4 separate regions of the Homo sapiens genome follow, and all the other regions are linked to region 1. Evidence: fine-mapped expression QTL. A gene starts in region 1. Each other region holds a variant in brackets. All regions are shown on one strand. Distances are from middle to middle.

Region 1 (5,199 bases):
AACTTTACCTTTTTTTAACTAAAAAAAATATAGTTGACCTTATCTGTATAGTCATCTATAAAATAACTGGACTTTATAAAGTTTGCTGGACTTTAATAAAGGTTTATCTAATCTAATAGAACTAGGCCATCCTTTCTTTGTTTCCCACCAAAGTTAACAGTCTCTTCCTGTATGAAAAGTAATGACAAAGGGCTCTTTGAAAGTATCAATCCCTAAACTACTTGTGATCTTTTAAACTGAGAAAACTTCTTTTTCTTTCATGCTCCTTGGACACTGTTTTCTTAAGTGCTTTACACTGGTGGATGTATAAGTATTTTTGATGGTAATTATGGAAAAACTAACAAGAATGGTGACATTAGGTTTTTCTGTCTTGAACATGCTGCTTACAGTTGCATGGATGAAGTGAGGCTCTATTCTTCTTCTTTTTTTTTTTTTTTAATAGAGACGAGGTCTCACCATGTTACCCAGGCTAGTCTTGAACTCCTGGGCTCAAGTGATCCTCTCGCCTCGGCCTCCCAAAGTGCTGTGATTACAGGACTGAACCAGGGAACCTGGCCTCCATTCTTGCCATACCGTAGCATCACACTGAGGCCCTTGGAAAGTACTTAAACGCTGATTATCAATGTTTTGAAATATTAATGTGGGCGGCCGGGCACGGTGGCTCACGCCTGTAATCCCAGCACTTTGGGAGGCCGAGGCGGGTGGATTACCTGAGGTCAGGAGTTGGAGACCAGCCTGGCCAACATGGTGAAACCCCATCTCTACTAAAAAAATAGAAAAATTAGCCAGGCGTGGTGGCAAGTGCCTGTAATCCCAGCTACTCGGGAGGCTGAGGCAGGAGAATCGCTTGAACCCCGAAGGCAGAGGTTCAGTGAGCCAAGATCACGCCATTGCACTCCAGTCTGGGAGTGCAAGAAATATTAATGTGGGCACACAAGCTATTTCTCATTTTTTTTTATTGAAACAACATTGCTTAGTTTCATTTACCTTTCTGTGAAATGTCTTTCTGTGAAAGTCTATCACAGCCTGATGTAATTTTTATAAACAATGAATACATGCTGTTACTATTTTTGAAAGGAAATTTAATCGCTTGGAAAAATTCAGACTAAAGCCCCGAGAGGAAAATTATCATCCAGTGCATGCTCAGAGATTTCTTCTTACTCTACTTTTGTTTTTCCTTTTTGAAAGCATTTGTGATTGAGAGATGTCTGAGGGAAGGGACAAATTGCATTCTGGGAGTTTTAAAGAGTTATGTCAGGCAACTAAAATACGTGGCCTCTGTATTTAAAGAGATTTCACACCAGTATACTATTTGCTTTATAATTTTTGTGTTTCTTATTGTTTAAAAATGCCTTTAACATTTAGTGCTGTGTTAAAGGATAGCATGCCAGATTCCAGATTAATGTAAAGACTCCACTATTTAACTTTTCCCTAGTAACTTTAAAACAGAGTTTGGGTTCCAAGTTCAGCATGGAAAGATAGCATAAACATTTAAACTAAGTAAAGTGCGAAATACACATTTTTGAAGTTGGTAAGTGCTGTTTAATCATTTTCCCCTTCTCTCCCAAGTCTTTTGAAACTTCAAAAGGCTTGTTTAAGCAGTGTGTTTAAAAAAAAAAAAATCCATACCCAATTGGGCTCCTCTCTATTAAGGAATGTGGAAAATTCATGATTTATGAAACGATGACACCAGTCTTACATTTCACAGGCTCCCAAGCTCTGAAACACGGGTACATAGGAAAATACACAGAAAATTCCTGTTCTTTGCAACGTGCGAAACGTTTCAAAATGCAACTTTGCTCATCTCCCTCCCCCGTACAAACTAATAAAATCAGTTTGGCTCTGACTGCTTATTTTTAAAAAGTAGACGGCCTGGTAGGTGCTCTAGGGATAACCCTTCTCCCCCCACTCCACCCCCCTTCCCGCACACCCATTTAGACTGGCAAGCCCGTTTTCATTTTATTTCAAAGATTTTTTTTTTTTAAGCGAAGGCAGGGGACGGCGGGGGTTGCTAAATTTATCTTCCTCCCCAGCCACGGGGATGAAGAAAACACATTTACTGCGGGCGGGGGTCTGAGGGCCTGCAAACAACTCGAGCTGGAGCCTCGGCCAGGACCGGCGCGAGAGGCGGTAGGTCTCCAGGGAGGCCCCCGGGGGGCGGCCGCGGCCCACGGGACATGGTGGGGGGCGGCCGGGCCGCCTGCCTCTCCGCGGGGTCGGCCGACCGCGGCCCCGCGCGGGCTTTACGGCCGAGGCGGCGGCGGCAGCGGCGCGTGTGTGGCGGCGGCGGGCGGGAGCGCGGAGGAGGTGGAAAGAAGGGGGGCGCTGTCACGGAGACTCCGGCCGCCGGAGACCCCGCCGCAGCGAGGCCACTGGGCTCCCCGGTCGCGGGGCGGGAGCGGCGCCGACACGGGGTGCCAGGAGGACCCACCGGGCGGAGGAGGGGGCCTGTCTACCCTTCCGCATTTTCCTGGGTCTCTCTCCCGGGCGGTGACGTGACGTGCTGACGGCGGGCCCGTGCCGGGGAGCTGGGCCGCTTTTTGTCAGCTCCGAGCTCGGCCCCTCCTCCCTCCCTCCGCCCGCCCCACCAGCCGGAGCCCGGCCCAGTGCTCCAGAGAAAGGCCGGCCTGCAGCACCCGCCACCGTCGCCGGCCGCCCGCACGTCCGTCCGGTGAGTCCCGGGTGCCGCCGCGGCCGCGGGGCCTAGTGCGCGCACAGCGGCCTGGTCTCGGCCTGGTCGGCGGCCCGCAAGGCGCCCTCCCGCGCTAGGCCGGGCGGCGTGGCGCGCGGCGCCGAGCAGGCCCCGAGGAGGCCGCAGTTAGGCCCGGGGAGGAGCCCGGCTGCCCCGAGCGGCGGCGGAGGCGCGCTCCGTAAGCGGGCGGGGGTTGGGGGAGGGTCGCCCGGTTGTGCCGGAGGCGGTCGAGGGGCCCCGGGTCGGCTCCGCGGCCGACCTGGGGCACCGCGCCGGGGTGAGGCCTGGCGAGGAGGCGAAGGCTGCAGGCGTGAGGTGAAGGCCGCAGGCCGGCCGGGCCGATTTTCGCTATGTAAATATCGGTGAGGGGGGGGGAGGGACGGGGGACAAGATGGCGGCGGCTCGGCGCCTGCTGCAGGGGACGATAGAGGGGGTTGCCGGGAGGGGGAGCCGCCATCTTGGAGGCGGTGTCTGGAGAGAAAATTCCGCTACAGCCCGTGAGGGGGGGTGGGAGAGCGGGCGGCGGCGGCAGCGGCGCCGGTGACGGGCCCCGGAGGCCCGGCGCGGCGGCGTGTGCGCGCGGAGGGGCGTGCTCGCTCCCCGTGGCGGCCATTGCCCTTGCCGCCATGATGAGCGCTCGGGCTCCAGGCGCTCGGCGGCAGCGCCACCTTCCTGCCTTGCCTCCCGCAGCCCCGTGACTGGCTGCAGTTTCCGCTGCGTTTCAGCTGAGCTGCCGCAGGCGGCCACCGCCGCCGCCCGGACGCCGGGACCGTTTCACCCTCAGCGCCCCTGGCCCTGCGCCTTCCCCCGCGCCTGTAGCCACCCGAGGGCAGTCGGGGCAGGTGGCATTCCGGACACCTGGGCTTACCAGGGCATACGGGACCCCAGGAAATGTTATTTTTGCTTAAGTCAAATCATATGTGGCTGCTAAGGTGCTTTCGATGCAGTTGTTTTTCCAACAATCTTTGCCGCCCCGAGTATCTGAATAAAGGAAGAAAAATAAAGATTGATGGGAAAGTTTTTGCCATTCTTTTGTCCTATAGGGAAAAAAATTGCACAACACGAGAGCGGAGGAATAAAATTTTGAATCATTCGTACTCATTTATGTGGAAACAACTTTCTTGAAAAACGATTTAAGTAGTGATCTGTTGGTGGTATTTTTTTAAATCGAGGAATAAGGGCAGACTTTTTTATTTTCTTATTGGAGGACAACTTAGTGTGGTGCATATTTATTGTGCATTTGCCTGTCATGGTATTTCGATTTTTCATTTGTGAAGTTTTAAGGCGGAGTTTCATCCCCTAACGTACTTTTTTGATTGCACACTGTGCAACTTTCTTGATAAACTCGGAGCCTACTGTTAGCGATGCACCGTGCTAGATGCTAAGAAACATTAAAAAGGTTCTTGTAATGCAGACGGTGGCTGCAAGAAGTCTCATGTTTAGAGGTAGGTGGGGCAAGGTGAAATGCAGTAAAGTGAGAGGTACAACTAATTACTGGGATTTCCGAGGGAAGCAAGGTTGCCATTGGAGGATCAGGGAGGGACGGGTTCCTGAAGTATTAATAGGTGGCATTTTGAGAAGGTTACCGAGGGATGGGTAGGACTTTGTTAGGTAGAGGTGGAGGTGGAGAAAGGACGTTTCAAGGGTGAAGCTTCTTCAGTAAACAGTAAGTATTTACAGTTTGGCAAAAGTGGATGGTATAGGTAGGGGAGTGGTGGGAATTCAGGCTAGAAAAGTTAGATTGCAGAAGGGCTTGCTTGCCAGGTGGAGGGGCTTATACTCAATGGGGTAGGCAGCGGGGGTGCCCTCAACTAGAAGAGTGATGGCACACCTGAGCTGCACCTTGTTATTTACTTATTTTTTATTTTGAGACAGGTTCTTGCTATATTGCCCCAGGCTGGTCTCGAACTCCTGGGCTCAAGCCGTTCTCCCGCCTCCCACTGCCCGCCTGTCACTGCCGTCTGTTCCCTGAGCTGTGCTTTACGGTACTTAGTAGTTCCATTGGACTAGGAAAAGTTTCAAAGTTGAAAAATAATGAGAGTAGTAAGTTGATCAGTGTTTTCATTATCAGAACGATTACAAGAATGTTCAGAAGTTAAGCAAATTTTGCTACTTTTGGAACGATGCGTCTCTATTAAGACAGCTGCTCCTTTTTTCTATCCTGATTTCTCATCCGAAATAATCTTTTGCTCAGAGTTGTCAGAATTTCTATGGTACACAAATAGGGAGGGGTTTCTAACATTTCATTTACCATGGTTGAAAAGTACAGGACTAGTGCTGTGGGTTATTTGACGAAAATGAGAAATGAGTATTCCCGTGGTAATTTTTTTTTTTTTTTGAGACTGAATCTCACTCTGTCGCCCAGGCTGGAGTGCAGTGGTGTGATCTTGGCTCATTGCAACCTCTGCCTCCCGGGTTCAAGTAATTCTCCTGCCTCAGCCTCCCGAGTAGCTGGGACTACAGGACCCTGCCACCATGCCTGGTTAATTTTTGTATTTTTAGTAGAG
Region 2 (5,199 bases), 72 kb after region 1:
GCATATGCATCATCCGGGGTATGTTGTGAAAATGCTCATTCTGATTCAGTGAGTCCAGAGTGGGGCTTGTGACTGTGCACTTCCTGCAAGCTCCCTGGTGATATTGACGCTGTGGTCCATGGACCACGTGGTCCAAGCCCTGGAAGAATTCAGTGGTTCTCGATTTCGGTCATAGAATTACACGGGGCAGCCTTTGAACTTCCCAGAGCCCGGTGGGAATGGGTCTCAGACAGTAATTTTTCAAGTTCCTCAGGTGATTACAATGTGCAGCCAAGATGTGAACCACTCTTCTAGATTTGCAGTTTATTGCCATAGAGATACAATATTTTCTTACTATTTAATAATCTCATTCTCTCGCATTTCTGGTTGCATCTCCTTCCTCATCTTAAATGTTATATGTTTTGTTTTCTGTCATATTTCTTTTTTTTTTTTTTTGAGTCGGAGTCTTGCTCTGTCGCCCAGGCTGGAGTGCAGTGGTGTAATCTCAGCTCACTGCAACCTCTGCCTCCCGGGTTCAAGAGATTCTCCTGCCTCAGCCTCCAGAGTAGCTGGGATTACAGGCACACGCCAACATGCCTGGCTGATTTTTGTGTTTTTAGTAGAGATGATGATTTACCATGTTGGCCGGGCTGGTCTCGAACTCCTGACCTCAGGTGATCCGCCTGCCTCAGCCTCCCAAAGTGCTGGGATTACAGGTGTGAGCCACTGTGCCTGGCTCATATTTCTTTAAGTGGCTTTCAGAGGTTTTGCTATTTCATAGGTGGTGTCAAAGAAACTGCTCTTTTGTTTATATTTTTTGGTTTTCTACTTAATTTTATCTTTCGTTGTTACTTTTTTTTTCTCTCTTTTTTTTTTTTTTTTTTTTGAGACAAGGTCTCACTCTGTTGCCAAGGCTAGAGTGCAGTAGTGTGATCACAGCTCACTGCAGCCTCGACCTCCTGGGCTCAAGTGATCCTCCCACCTTAGCCTCCCGAGTAGCTGGGACCACAGGCACGCACCACCATGCCCAGCTAATTTTTGTATTTTTTTGGTAGAGACAGTGTCTTGTCATGTTGCCCAGGGTGGTCTCAAACTCCTGAACTCAAGCTATCCACCTGCCTCCCCCTCCCAAAGTGTTAGGATTACAGGTGTGAGCCACCCTGCCTGGCCTATTTTCTTTTCCTATTTTCTTCTGGTATATTTTACTATCTAATTAAAATGTCTGATGTTTTGTATTTCATTAATTTTCATTTATTTTTAAAGGAAATCCTTGAAACCTGTGTATTTCCTTTGGTATACAACTTTAGCTATAGGCCATTGTATATGAATTGTCCTTTTTTGTATTCTAGATAGTTTTACATCTGTTTTGATTTCCTATTTAAGTAGAGTTTAACTTTCAAGTAGTAAACATTTTTATTAATCCCTTTAGCCTTGATCTCTAGTTTTGTTGGTCTGAGTTCAAAGTATGGCCTGTATAACCTCTACATTTTTTTTTGGAATTTTTGAAGTTTTCCTTTTCGGCAAGACATAATTTTTTTGAAAATACAACACAGATATAGTATAACATCTTTACATTTATAGGTATAAACTTATAGATAAAACTGAGCTTGTTGATTATTCAGATCCTTTATATCCTATATCCTTGCTATTTTTTGACTACTTGAGTTTTTTTGTTTGTTTTTTTCTGAGACAGGTTCTCGCTGTGTTGCCTAGGCTGGTCTCAAACTCCTGGGCTAAAGCGAGCCTCCCACCTAAACCTCCCAAAGTTCTGGGATTACAGGCATGGGTCACCGTGCCTGGCGACTATTTGATTTTTAATTTTTGAAAAAATATCAAAATATCTCACTATAAGGGAGTTTTATGGAGTTTCCTTGTACTTAAAGTTTTGCTTTATATAATTGGTTTCTATCGATTTTTGTTTCATAGATGTTTGACAGATCTTATTTATGATTGTACCTTTTACAGGATATTTTTGTCCTCTTTAACGTATTTGGTCTTGAACTCTACTTTGATATGTGTTTTCTATTTCAATCCTTTCTTATGTCTTATATTACAAATTCTGTTATCATAATTTATTAGACATAAGTGTACACTGCAGAATTTTTGGCTACTGCTGTTTCTTGTCCATTTCATCTTTCCCCATTTGACATCTCTGTGCTGAATAAATTTTCATTTGGTTGATGTATACTTCGTTTGTTCCTTCATATTTGGTATGTGGGTGTATATTCTTTCTAAAACCTTGACTACCCCAAAACATCTATTTTTGCCTTGACAAATGATCTTAGTAGGTATAAACTTCTGTTCACAGTCTCTTTTCTTTCACAGTTTATAGATGTTTCATTGTTTTCCAACTTTAGTGTTATGAGAACTCCAATGCCTCTTCCTTTGTTTCCTGAAGTTCATATGAATTTTCCTTTGTCTTTGGAACTCAGAAAGGTCACTAGAATCTATCTAGGGGTGTGTGTGTGCACGTGTGTGTTTGTGTGTACTTCTAATCACATCTGGGATTTGTTATTTGCTGATT[CCTTT/C]CTTTCTGTTAAGTCTCTCTTCAGCTAAAGAAGTTTTCTTACATCTTGTGTGTAATTATTACTTATCATACTGGCATTTTGCTTCTTCGGGAATTCCTATTTTTCACATATAACATCTCCTGGATTTGTCTTGTCATCATAAAATGGCACCAAGAAGAAAGAATCCCTTTAATCCCGTGCCCCAGCGTGTGATCATTATTGTACCGAAAAATTTAAATGTTTGAAAGGGATGTCTCTTGAAGAGAGAAGGTATGTCCCCAGTGGTGGGATTGCTGAAAGAAAAAAAGAAAAAAAAGAAAAAAAGAAGCAAGAGAGTGATAGTCTGTAAATGTGCAACCTGTCCTGATGGAGTAACAGTGCTCTTGATTTATTTCTCCCTAGTAGAAGGAACTTCAGCCAGAAATTTCCTTTCATAGAATAACAGCATTCTGAGTACCTTCTTTGCCTCAACTTTAAATAAAGAAGCATGTAAAAAAGTCTTAATGCTAGGTACACAGTGCTGAATAAGAGTTCTCCATCTCTTCCTTTCCCTATACGTTACACATTTTGTTAAATGAGCAAGAATGAGAGCATTGTTGTAGCAGACATCACCACTGTCCCTGAATGTCATTCCTGATCTTATTCAAATTTAACATGTGTGAACAAATGTGAACCTGAGAGAGCCAATCATTCAAGACGGATCCCCAGTGGCTAACTGGGCCTAAATTTAAAATAGATGTGAACCAACTGGTATAGGAAAAAAAAAAAAAAAAAAGGAAAAAAACTGTAAAAATAAAACAGAGCCAAGCAGCCATTTGCTGACTAGAGGTCACCCATATCCTCTGAATTCCCCCTAAATCCACACCTCTGTTCAACTTTGGGACTCCAGAACTCACCTGAATCAACTAATCAGAGCATACCTGCCTCAGTCAATCAGGGCTCAGCTGTATCAACCAATCAGAACTCAGCTTCACTGACCAATCAAAACTAAGTTTCAGTCCTTTATTTGCATGAACAGACCAGATTGGGAACTTGGTCGAGAACTTTTGCTATGAGACCGTAACCCTGTTTTTGTTCTCTGGAAAACACCTTTGTTTTACAGGGAAGCCTTCCTCTCCCTAGTTTGCAAACCATGCACTGAAATAAAGTATCTTTCCTCCAAATTCCTTTCCAGAGAACTTTTGTTCACATGTGCAGTCCTAAGCTTTGTTTCAAAATGGACCAATTTACACTCTTCACAGCAAAATTGGAAAATATTGAGTTTTGGTGAGGATGTGCAGCAATGAGAACACGGTAATATTGGCACACTTTTAAGTTTTGCCAATTTTGTGCATGTAAAAGAATATTATATTGAGATTTTAATGAACATATCCCTAATTATGAATAATATTGAGCATCTTTTCACATATTTATTGGTTATTCACATTTCCTCTTTTGTGACAAGCCTATATTGGTTTTTTTTTTGGCCTATTTTCTATGAATGGCCCATTTCTATTGGATCACTTACATTTTTCTTGTTGATCCATAAACATCTATATCTCTATCTATCTATCTATCTATCTATCTATCTATCTATCTATCATCTATTTTAAGAGACAAGGTCTCACTATGTTGCCCAGGCTGATCTCGAACTCCTGGGCTCAATCAAAGAGCTGGGATCACAGGTGTGAGCCACCATGCCTGGCCCCTTTATATAGTCTTGATATTAGTCCTTTGTCAGTTATATGTAATTTTATTTATTTAGTTAGTTAGTTTTTGAGTCAGGGCCTTGCTCTGTCGCCCAGGCTGGATGGAGTGCGGTGACGCAATCTTGGCTCACTGCAACATCTACCTCCTGGGCTCAACCACCCCTCCCACCTCAGCCTCCCGAGTAGCTGGGACCACAGGTGCATGCCACTACGCCTGGCTAATTTTTCTATTTTTTTCTTTTTTGGTAGAGATGGGGTTTTGCCGTGTTGCCCCGGCTGGTCTCAGACTCCTGGGCTCAAGTGATCCTCTTGCCTTGGCCTCCCAAAGTGCTGTACAGGTATGAGCCACCACACCTGGCCATACATGTAATTTTAAAATCTCTGTAAATATCTTCTCTTGGTCTGTGGCTTGCCATTTTACTCTATTGTGTCTTTTGATTAACTTAAGTTCATCATTATAACCTGGTAAAATTGGTATCTTTTCCTTATGATTAATGCTTTATGTGTCTTAAGAAATCCTTCCTGATAGTAATGAGGTTATTCTCTGATATTAGTTTTTTAAAGCTCTGTAGTTTGACTTTTCATACTTATGTCTTTATCCTGAAACGGATTCGATGTGGATTATAGTGTGAGTTAAGCATTCACTTTAACGTTTTTCAACTTCAACTTCATACAGTTCAACTCTTTATTGAAAAAATCAATACTTGCCCACTAATTTGCAGAGCCAGCTCCATGATATATAAAATATTCCTGTGTAAGTGGATCTGCTTCTAGGATCTCTGTTTTGTTCCATTTGTCATTTGTCTTTCTCTGTAACTGTGCCCCATAACTTTTTTTGCAGGGGCGGGGGAGGATGGAGTCTCACTCTGTCCCCCAGGCCAGAGTGCAGTGGTGTAATCTCAGCTCACTGCAACCTCCACTTCCCGGGTTCAAGTGATTCTCCTTCCTCAGCCTCCCGAGTAGCTGGGACTACAGGCACGCACCGCCACCCCCAGCTAATTTTTGTGTTTTTAGTAGAGACAGGG
Region 3 (5,199 bases), 65 kb after region 1:
TACAGTCAGGTCTAATTATCATAACATGGAAGTCATTTACTTGTCTTGCTTAATATTTTCAGACCACTTGACAGTGAAAGTTTCCATTTGAGCTGTTGCGTCCCTGGCTTTGCTGAGTAAAGAGCAGTGGCTGGGTTCGTGTTTACTTTTCAAATATACTTCTTTTGGCTTTCTTTGGATTATTTACATCTTTTGTCAGCGTAGCAAACTTTTAGAAAACCTTATTGAAAAACTGTGCTTGCTCATGTTGTATTTTGATTATTCTGTCTGTGCGGCTTCATCTTGGAATGGTTGTGTGCTACAAATGACACTTACTGAGGACTGCATTTTGGAATCTCCTAGAGGTAACTCATGGCTTATAGGATCTTTTGCAACTTTATGTATGTAAATGTACCCTGAATTATATATATACACATATATATCATGTACCTGTGTGTATTGCTTATTTTACATATTTATACACACAACCCCAAGTAGTAGTTGTTTAAAATCTATAATGAAAAGTATTAAATTTACAATAACATGAAAGATCCAGGGATGCATGAGAGAGCATTTTGTAAGTCATGCTCTTCAGAGAGACTACTCAGGTGAAGAATTAGAAGGAAAATAAGGACACTAGTATTTTTAAAGAGTAAAGATATTTTCTTTTAAATATCTTTGGTAATTGAAACATAGAGGTTAAGATGTTTCTAGGTAGAATGTTTTCATACAATTTCACCTCCATGTCTTTATGTTTTTCTGAAAAGCAAATGAGTATCCAGACATGACTCCCACAGTTCTCTTTGAGAAGCCTGAGAGGGAACTCTGTCTTACCTAGTGAGGGGGATGGAAAAGAAGTGATGGCTCTGTGGACCAGAGAACGGGTGCTAATTATGACTTCACACTCGGCAAGTTCAGGCTGATCTGTTATTTCTCAGTTACAGTTAGCAAACTTTAAAAACTTAACACTCAAGTTGGCTTTGATTAAAAGGTAAAGATGTGTTTTAAGTGGATAAGGAAAGTCTGAGGCCTTATTTGGAACATCACTAAGTCTTCCACAGGTTTTTTGTTTGTTTGTTTTTTTTTGTTGTTTTTTTTTCTTAAGACGGAGTCTTGCTCTGTTGCCCAGGCTGGACTGCAGTGGTGTGATCACTGCAACCTCTGCAGCTCACTGCAACCTCTGCTTCCTGGGTTCAAGCAATTATCTGCCTCAGCCTCTCGAGTAGCTGGGATTACAGGCGCCCACCACCACGCCCGGCTAATTTTTTGTATTTTTAATAGAGATGGGGTTTCACCATCTTGGCCAGGCTGGTCTTGAACCCTGACCTCGTGATCCACCTGCCTCGGCCTTCCATAGTGCTGGGTTTACAGGCGTGAGCCACCGTGCCCAGACACCACATAGGTCTGAATCAGTGTCATACATTCATAAAACAAACTCGGTTAATTAGAACTTGGTTATGTTAAGACGAATCTGGGAGAACAGAAAACAGTTTTTGGGGTCCCTTCAGTTGGCTATTGGTCCGTATGCATCTAGCACATTGTAGGAGATTTAGAAATTGTCTTCCCACCCGATAGCTGCCTTGTCACCTCATTATGGTGCTCCATCCCCTGTGTGCTTAGGTTTTTACCTTTCATCTTTCTCTTTGCCATTGATGTTTGTATTCAAGAGTTATATTTTTAGGGTTAGAAATCAAAATATTTGGTGTTTGGCAAACCTCTGAAGTGCTAGACTGATTTAGTCTAGTTTTAAACCAAGTGCTTTAGGCAGGTGTGAACTCCAGCCCAAATGCCAGTCAAAGTCAAGGCATGGGTTTTCCTAGCCTATCTTATAGGAAATTCCTGTACCTTCTTGGCCCCCATAATGTGTTTTTTTTTTTTTTTTTTTTTTAAACTAACTTACAATTTTGTGATCCGTGATTCATTGCCCTGCGATTCTTGAAAGCTCTGTCTGTTTTTTTGTGAGAACCTTTAAAATCTCCCTTAATTTTTATTTTCCCAGAAATAATGTAAAAACACTTAAATGAAAGTGGAAATGTATTAATTTTAAATCCTATAAAATTAATACAGAAAATATAAATGATTGGGTCATTTAACTATATTTTTTTAAATAAACTGAAAGATAAAGAACACAACACTTCACACATTTTATATTTCTCTTACATACTCCGGAATCATACACAGTTCTTTTTAAAGCACAACATTAAAACCTTTAAAAGGTATTTAAGGGTTTGGTCAAGTGAATATGATAAAACATACTTGTCTGTATAAAGAGAAAATGAAATTGTAGTCACTGTTATGTACTGACATTAGTTACAACCTAGTTTTAATTCTTAAAACAATTTTGATTAGCAAAGCTAAAAAAAAATGGATGTTTCAGTTAAATGTTTTAAAGAGGTACAGATTTTTACAAGGACATAATATAAGTTATTGTTCTGTAGAAATATCCTATTAAATATTGTATGTCCCTCCCTCTGTACACTTTGTAAAGAAAGTAAAATACATAAAAAGAAAATCATATAGGGATGTGTGACATTATTGTAATTGTGTACTTGAGAATAACGTGCAAAAATAAAAATCAGAATATTTTCCTGTTATTGAATGTTTAGTCTATTTGATACCAGTACTAAGTTAATGCTTTTTCTCAAGGAAAAAAAATGTACAGTTTTTGTAAACCTAATAAACATCAAAAGCAGTGGATTATTTTCATCCCCCCATTTCTTAATTTCTTTTTCACAGCAGTGGAATGCAAAGTGCTTGATTGCTTTGAATTTTGTGACTCGGATGCAAATACTGGTAATATTTCAGTTCTGTGAATTTGCAAGTAATATTTCAGAGAAGTTAAGAGGTGATTGGTGAGTCCTTTGATGAGCATGTCCTTGGAATTCATTTTTTCTTTTATCTTCATAAAGGATTTGTTTTATTAGCATCTCCAATTCCCCTGAGATAAATTACTCATGCATAAAGTGGTTTTTGAGAGCACTTAAAGTTCATTTCAGTATTAATTTACAGCATATTTAATCAGTGGGGACTGTTACCACCTCCACAACAGAAATCATGCCCTCGAGTTACCCCACTGCGCCCAGTTTAGAGGACTAGTAGATGCTAACATACTAGGGAATGGTCATTGCCACAGTTAAAAATCGGCAGTTAAGTAAATGTCAGGAGTCAAAAGAGA[T/G]AGAGTTGTGCCATCTTTGATTTTATAGACAAGATTCTGCAGTTCTTCCAACTGTATGAACAAACGTTTGCCTAATAGTTGAAACAATAAATTAAAATTTTAGGTAAATGACGAAGGGAATGTGGTGAATGTCACTGTCCAGAGCCATAAATCAGACAAAACCATACATAGCATGCTGAAAAACTTTTGTAATGGAACACCCAACAAATGACACCTAACCTGTCTGTGATCCAACAAGTCCGATAACATGCTGCTGTATTTGTATTCTCTGGGAATCTCAGTATTAATAATTTCATTTCCCACAAATTCTAGCATTCATGTAAGGAAAAACATGGCTAATCAATATCTTAAAGGGGCAATCTTTCAGAGCAGTGGTTTTCAAAGTATGGCCGGACAGCATTGGCAGCATCTTAATCTCCTGGGACTTTGTTAAAAATGCAAATTCTCAGCCCCACCCTAGTCCTACTGAATTGGGAAACTGGCGTGGGACCCAGCAGTCTTTGTTTTAACATGTTCTCCAAGTGATTCTGATGCCTGTTCAAACTTGGGAAACACTTTTAGAGCACTTGAGGAACCTAAAAGATGACTGGTTCAGCATTTTGTGTGGTAGATAAGAAAGAAATTATCACAAAAAATCAGAAATGAACAGTGAGAGAAAAATAGGACCCCAGACAGTTTATACCTTCCATTTGCTGTTTTAAAAGTGTGAGCCTGCCAAGTCAACAAGTATGCCTTTAGCGCACATGTAAATAGCCTGCACTTCCTAAATCTCGTGTGGCCTCCCATGGTTACATTCTTCAAAGGTAAACTGAGTTGAGAGGAAGATTCAGCATTTAAAAGAGAAGGGTTGAAAAAGATTGTGTGTGTGTGTGTGTGTGTTTAATTGGCCCAGGGTTACTTAAATAAATCATAACCATTTTGCCACATTCTGTAACTGTTTAGCTAAGGTCAAATTAAGTTTACCCTATGGATTTTGTTTCATCTTTTGTTTCGTGTATATACTGTTTGCCTTTTTCATAAAAATCTTGGATTTGTTATATATTGTTCCTGTTATTTTTGACATCTTTGCTATTGTAAATAAATTACTATTTTGTTTTAAGTTACCCTAGTGGAGTGTTGGCTATAGACAAGGTATATACTCGAAACGAGGAGACTTAAATCACACAGTTAATGAATTCCCAACTTGTTTGAAGCTGGAGGTGATTCGACTCCCTTCAGTGGTTCAACACTAATAATAGCACCAAGGAACATGTCACTGGTGCATATAGGCATAGCATCTGTACCGACTTGGATTTCAAAATCATGTTTTGACCTCTGTGATGGAAGTACTCACTCCATGAAGTTTGAGGTCAAAATCAAGAATTACTTTCCTTTACTTGGTTTTTCCTATTCAATTGGTCTCTCATGTTACTTGTATTGCTGGTATTGGTGGACACAAAGGATCTGGCATTACAGTGACCTGTCGAGACTGTAAAGCCACTAGGAGACTTGGCTACTAAAAACCTGCTCAGGACTTCTAGATGTTGTTTGGCTCTGAACTACCACAGAAGTATCTAAACACATTGACTAAAAGTATAGAATAGTTAACTAGACCTATATTATTTTGCTTTCTAAGAGGCCAGTTTCTGCTTTTAAATGCAGAACCCATTTCCTTTTGTCTGAGATTCTTTGAAATAGGAGGGGTATTGCAAAGCCATCTGTTGGGGTTTTGAAGGTTCTAGTCACCTGTCCTCCCCTCTTGAGTTCTAACCACATTGAAGATAGACAAGAAACCACCAATTAAGTGTGCGATTTATTCTAGTAAGGCTGGATTGGGAGACCCAGAGGCTGAGATGAGTCTGTTTCCAATCTCTTTCCCTCCAATGTAGGCCTTGACTGATGCAGCCAGTCATTTGAAGGCATGGGGCCTACCTTCCACTCCTTTGTGAGCTATCAGGAGACTAGTTCTGTCATCAGAGAAAGGGAGCATCTACTCCAGCCCTCCCAGGCTAGAACACAGGAAAAGGGGGAGAGTTCCCTTACATCATCCTAATAAAGGTTAGTCC
Region 4 (5,199 bases), 350 kb before region 1:
GAGCCACTGTGCCTGGCAGATATACATTATTAATATATTCTATGTGACATATTTATAGTAACACTACACTGAGCATCTACTATGTGCCAGACATTGTGGTTTTATTTCATGAATGCCCATAACAATATTGTAGGGTATTCCAGTGGTATGCTAGTAAGTCAGCTGGAGGTGGGGTATCCTTGATTTGTAGAACTGGCTGATTTCCATGGTGTGAATACATCCGCTAAGGGTGTACCAAAGGTTTTAGCAACTGGCTGACAAAATTCCTGAATATTTAACAATAGGTTCTCCCAAGCCAGAAGGAGCAGGTTGCAGCACACCACTGGATCAGGCCCATCTTATTTTATTGCATTTTATTTTATTGAGACAGGGTCTTGTTCTCTCACCCAGGCTGCAATGCAGTGGTGTGATCGCAGCTCACTGCAGCCTCAACCTCCCAGGCTCAATTAATCTTCTCACCTTAGTCTCCTGAGTAGCTGAAACCACAAGTGCATGCCACCAAACTCCTGGCTAATTTTTGTATTTTTTTGGCAGAGACGGGTCTTGCCATGTTGCCCAGGCTGGTCTTAAACTCCTGGGCTCAAGTGATCCACTGGCCTCGGCCTCCCAAAGTGCTGGGATTAAGGGCGTGAGCCACCATGCCCAGCACAAATCAATTTATTTTATGTCATACAACCAGGAGGCAACAGGATTGAGATCTGAACTGGGTAGCCGGGTTGCACATATACCTCACGAACTACAACTCATGGTCTAGTCTCACTAACCATTCATGGTAGTGTTTCCTCATTAAACACTGGTGGTGCTTTAGGGCTAAGACTGTTTCTTTGAAACCTGGAAAAGGTCTTGCCTGTGCTTAGATTCGGTGTCGAGGAACAGGGAGAATGCAGTCTTCCTGTCCACTGTTCCCTGTCTCAACACGTCTCTGCCAGCTCTGCAAGAAAATTCGACACTTCCACAAAAGACCAGTGAAGGAAGCCAACATGTTTCACCCCAAAACATACTTCTTTGACGTATTTCAAGATGGCTATTCAGAAGGGCTGGAAATACGAGAATAGCTGCAAAGCTGCCTTTTGTGGAGCTTTGTATGTGTAGAGAAAATCCGCATTGATGCAGCCCTGCTTTCTCGGAGGCCCTCCCTTGTCCGGATCTAGGAAAGATTGACTGAGAGTCTGACGCCTTTGGAGGCCTTTGGAGGCCTGAAAAAGGGCTACCACTTGTGAGGTTTGATCTACATAACAAGACCCACTTTGCTAGCCAGGCCTCCTCTTCTCCCCCTAAACAGGTTAGAAGAGGACTTCTCCTCCAACCTGTTTTGCCAGGATCCAAGCCCCATTCTTTTATTTTTATTTATTAATTTTATTTTGAGACGGAGTCTAGCTCTGTCGCCAGGCTGGAGTGCAGTGGCGTGATCTCGGCTCACTGCAGCCTCCACCTCCCAGGTTCAAGCGATTCTCCTGCCTCAGTCTCCCGAGTAGCTGGGATTACAGGTGCCCGCCACCACACCCAGCTACCAAGCCCCATTCTTTCTGTAACCTCAAGATGGTATATAAACCTCTGTACCCCCTGGAGGATGGGTTGCAGTAATCACTCTGTGATTTCCCTCCGTGAACATTGATAAATTTGTATGCCATTTCTTCTACTAATCTGCCTTTTGTCAGTTGATATTCCAGTGAACCGTCAGAAGGCGAAGGGAAAGATTTCCCTTGGCCTCCACAGCAGATTTGAGGCAAGGCAAGTGTTTGAGACGGAGTTTCGCTCTTGTTGCCCAGGCTGGAGTGCAATGGCGCAATCTCGGCTCATGGCAACCTCCGCCTCCCGGGTTCAAGCCATTCTCCTGCCTCAGCCTCCGGAGTAGCTGGGATTACAGGCATGCACCACCTCGCCCGGCTAATTTTGTATTTTTAGTAGAGATGGGGTTTCTCCATGTTGGTCAGGCTGGTCTCGAACTCCTGGCCTCAAGTGACCCAACCTGCCTTGGCCTCCCAAAATGCTGGGATTACAGGCATGAGCCACCATGCCTGGCCAAATTACGTTTGAGTTCTGTTGCTAGAAACAAAAATGTGCTCTCCTGAATTTTCCACACAGGCCTCCAAGGAGTTAAAAGACAAAAATCATTTTCCAGTTTCTCTGGCTTCAAGCCTGATTCCCAGACGGGATCCAACACTAATCGCCATCCAAATGCCTGTCAGCAAGATAGTCATGATGTACTCTGGCATATAGTACTGAGGCAGTCTTGGGCAATGTTGTTATAGAATTATGTTATAATTATACTCGGCCTTGTTTCCTGCACATCTCACAGATGCTTATCCACCAACGGAGTGTTAGCTGACAATCATTCCAAACAAGCCCAGACAAAAGGAATAATAGCGGTAACCTGAGGAACTTCGGAAGAAATACACAGCTAAGGTCTGAGAATGTTTGGCCAGTTCAATAGCCTCTTACGGGCAAGTCCAATGTCAGGCGGCATTTCTACCTTCTCC[T/G]GTTCTGCCTTTGACCTCTTCACGCTCTCTTGTCCTGTCCAGAACACTGTCACTTAAACTCCTCTGTTTTTTTTTTCTTTTTTTTTGAGACAGGGTCTTGTTCTGTCGCCCAGGCTAGAGTGCAGTGGCACAATCACAGGTTACTGCAGCCTTGAGCTCCCAGGCTCAAGTGATCCTCCCACCTCAGCCTCTGGAGTAGCTGGGATTACAGGCACATGCTACCACACCTGACTAATTTTTGTAAAGATGAAGTCTAAGTCTCACCATGTTGGCCAGGATGGTCTCAAACTCCTGGCCTCAAGTGATCCACCTGCCTCAGCCTCCCAAGGTGCTGGGATTACAGGCATGAGCCACTGTGCCTGGCCAAAAACATGTAACACTGGGGGAAATTCTTTCAATCCTCCATTCGCCCTGACCCCCCCACTCCAATACCACCCCACTTTCCAAAAGGGCTCAAAGGCTTAAGGAGCTGAATGTCGGGGTACTGTTTGTTAGAACTGCGAAGGAGGGGCCTGTCTATCCACCGTCCTCTTGGTCCTCCCCTGAGATGGGAGAAAAAGGCTTGTGTTATGCTCAGGGGCACCATGGTCTCCGCCAGACCGGATGGAATTCTGGGGAAACGTTCCCACAGAAATCCAGGGAAGTGGAGAGGAGAAAGCTCCTGAGGGAAGAATCTAGGTGGTGCTGCGTGTGTGTGGTTTACATGCCAGTCTGTATTTTAAGAGGTTTCCAAGCCGATTTTAATTAACCTCCAGTTGAAACTTGCTAAACAAGTTTTGCAGCCCAGGTTATTGTGTTAGTATTTTTCCGGGTATATTGTCCTAGGTTTGAATTTCATGATGTTTATTATTCTTTCTAACTACAACTCAGTGGGGAAAAGCCCAAGGTACCTTTTAAGACCTAAGTATTTCCTGGTAATGACTTGTAGGAAAGAATGACATTTCCATAACATTTGGACCAAGAGAAGAAGTGAGAATTTAAAGTTGACATTTGCAAGTGATAAAAGCCAAAACCAAAAGTATTCTTTTAAAGAATATGCCTTTCTTCTAATGAAATATACACAAGTCTTGATTCAGATGATAACTTTTCTAGAATTACCTTTGAAAACAAACCCTTAGGTTTCTTATGCTCCAACCCCTAGGGGACAGATTCAGAACAGCTTGTTTCTTTCAAGTCTACTCAATCAAGGCCTGCCTTCTAGAGACTTTTCTTTTTTTTTTTTTTTTTTGAGATGGCATTTCGCTCTTGTTGCCCAGGCTGGAGTGCAGTGGCGCAATCTCAGCGCACCGCAACCTCCGCCTCCTGGGTTCAAGCGATTCTCCTGCCTCAGCCTCCCAAGTAGCTGGGATTACAGGCATGCGCCACCACACCTGGCTAATTTTCTATTTTTAGTAAAGACGGGGTTTCTCCATGTTGGCCAGGCTGGTCTCGAACTCCCGACCTGAGGTGATCCACGCCCCCACCCCTCGGCCTCCCAAAGTGCTGGGATTACAGGCATGAGCCACCGCGCCCAGTCTCTAAAGACTATTTTTAATGGGCACCATATGATCTCTCTGGAACTGAGAAGAGCGGACTTTGGGGAAATTAGAAAAGATGTAGAAGGATGCTGCTCCAAGGGCCTTCAGAATAATCACTTGACATCATCTCTGATAAGTTACTCTCTAGGTCATTTATATAAGCCTCTGCCCCAAGCATATAGGAGAGAGACATCTAGTTTAGGGCCATCAAACTGGGAAACATTTGTTGCTTGAGGTATACAAGAGGATTCCAAGGTACTGAGTTTTAAGGAACTTGGGTTCCAAACCTCAACTTCTATATATACTCTTTCCAGAAATGGTCTACCTGAAAATGCTCCTGAGGTTAAGAGGTCACACTTGGGCTGGGCGCAGTGGCTTATACCTGTAATCCCAGCACTTGGGGAGGCCAAGGCGGGAGGATCCCTTGAACCCAGGAGTTTGAGACCAGCCTGGGCAATAGAGTGAGAGCTTGTCTCTAAAAAAGAAAAAAAATTAAAATAATAATAATAGGAGGTCACACTTGGCTCCTCTTGCCTCTCTCCTCTTTCATAAATGCCCTTCCTGGCAAGATGGGGTGGTTCACAGCTGCACTCTTTTTATTTATTTATTTTTGAGACAGAGTCCCGCTCTGTTGCCCAGCCTGGAGTGCAGTGGTGCAATCTCGACTCACTACAACCTTCACTTCCCAGGTTCAAGTGATTCTCCTACCTCAGCCTCCTGAGTAGCTGGGATTACAGGTGCTTGCCACCACCACCTGCTGATTTTTGTATTTTTGGTAGAGATGAGGTTTCACCATGTTGGCCAGGCTGGTCTCGAACTCCTGACCTCAGGTGATCCACCTGCCTTGGCCTCCCAAACTGCTGGGATTATAGGGGTGAGCCACCGTGCCTGGCCTCGGCTGTACTCTTAACACTTTGGGAGGAGGAGGTGGGTGGATTGCTTGAGCCCAGGAGTTTGAGACCAGCCTGGGCAACACAGTGAAACCCCTGTCCCTAAAATAAATAAATGAATGCCCTTCTCCCACCTTACTAAAGAAAGGTGTACCCCTAACCTACCCTGAATCTTAGCAGAGGGTGCTACCCCCAAGGTGTAAAAACCTCTGGGCACCAAACCAAAGAATAATTCAGGAATGTACAGCTCTCAAGGGAAGAGTTCCCAGAGAGTTGAGACCCCTTCTCAGATTACTTAGGTAGGAGCATGTA

Evidence for each region. PIP is the estimated chance that this variant, and not a neighbour inherited with it, causes the effect.
Region 2: its variant is fine-mapped to the expression of ZFX in whole blood (TOPMed, PIP above 0.99).
Region 3: its variant is fine-mapped to the expression of ZFX in blood mononuclear cells (TOPMed, PIP above 0.99).
Region 4: its variant is fine-mapped to the expression of ZFX in fibroblasts (GTEx, PIP 0.97).

Annotation. Positions count from the first base shown.
Region 1 is chrX:24,147,124-24,152,322 of GRCh38, forward strand. It overlaps ZFX (zinc finger protein X-linked), which reads left to right and starts at 2,606. Exons shown (of 10, transcript NM_003410.4): 1 at 2,606-2,671; 2 at 4,568-4,677. ZFX-AS1 (ZFX antisense RNA 1) reads right to left here and starts at 2,531. Exons shown (of 3, transcript NR_046657.1): 1 at 2,432-2,531; 2 at 1,630-1,719. RefSeq lists enhancers at 1,943-2,042, 2,249-3,062 and silencers at 2,153-2,512, 2,573-2,982, 3,003-3,052, 3,103-3,612.
Region 2 is chrX:24,219,434-24,224,632 of GRCh38, forward strand. No RefSeq gene overlaps it. Among named protein-coding and RNA genes, the nearest start is that of ZFX, 72 kb to the left of the region's middle. The variant CCTTT/C (reference allele first, on the strand shown) is at 2,504.
Region 3 is chrX:24,211,833-24,217,031 of GRCh38, forward strand. ZFX (zinc finger protein X-linked) reads left to right here. Exons shown (of 10, transcript NM_003410.4): 10 at 1-4,423. Among named protein-coding and RNA genes, the nearest start is that of ZFX, 65 kb to the left of the region's middle. The variant T/G (reference allele first, on the strand shown) is at 3,155.
Region 4 is chrX:23,794,313-23,799,511 of GRCh38, forward strand. No RefSeq gene overlaps it. Among named protein-coding and RNA genes, the nearest start is that of SAT1, 14 kb to the left of the region's middle. The variant T/G (reference allele first, on the strand shown) is at 2,481.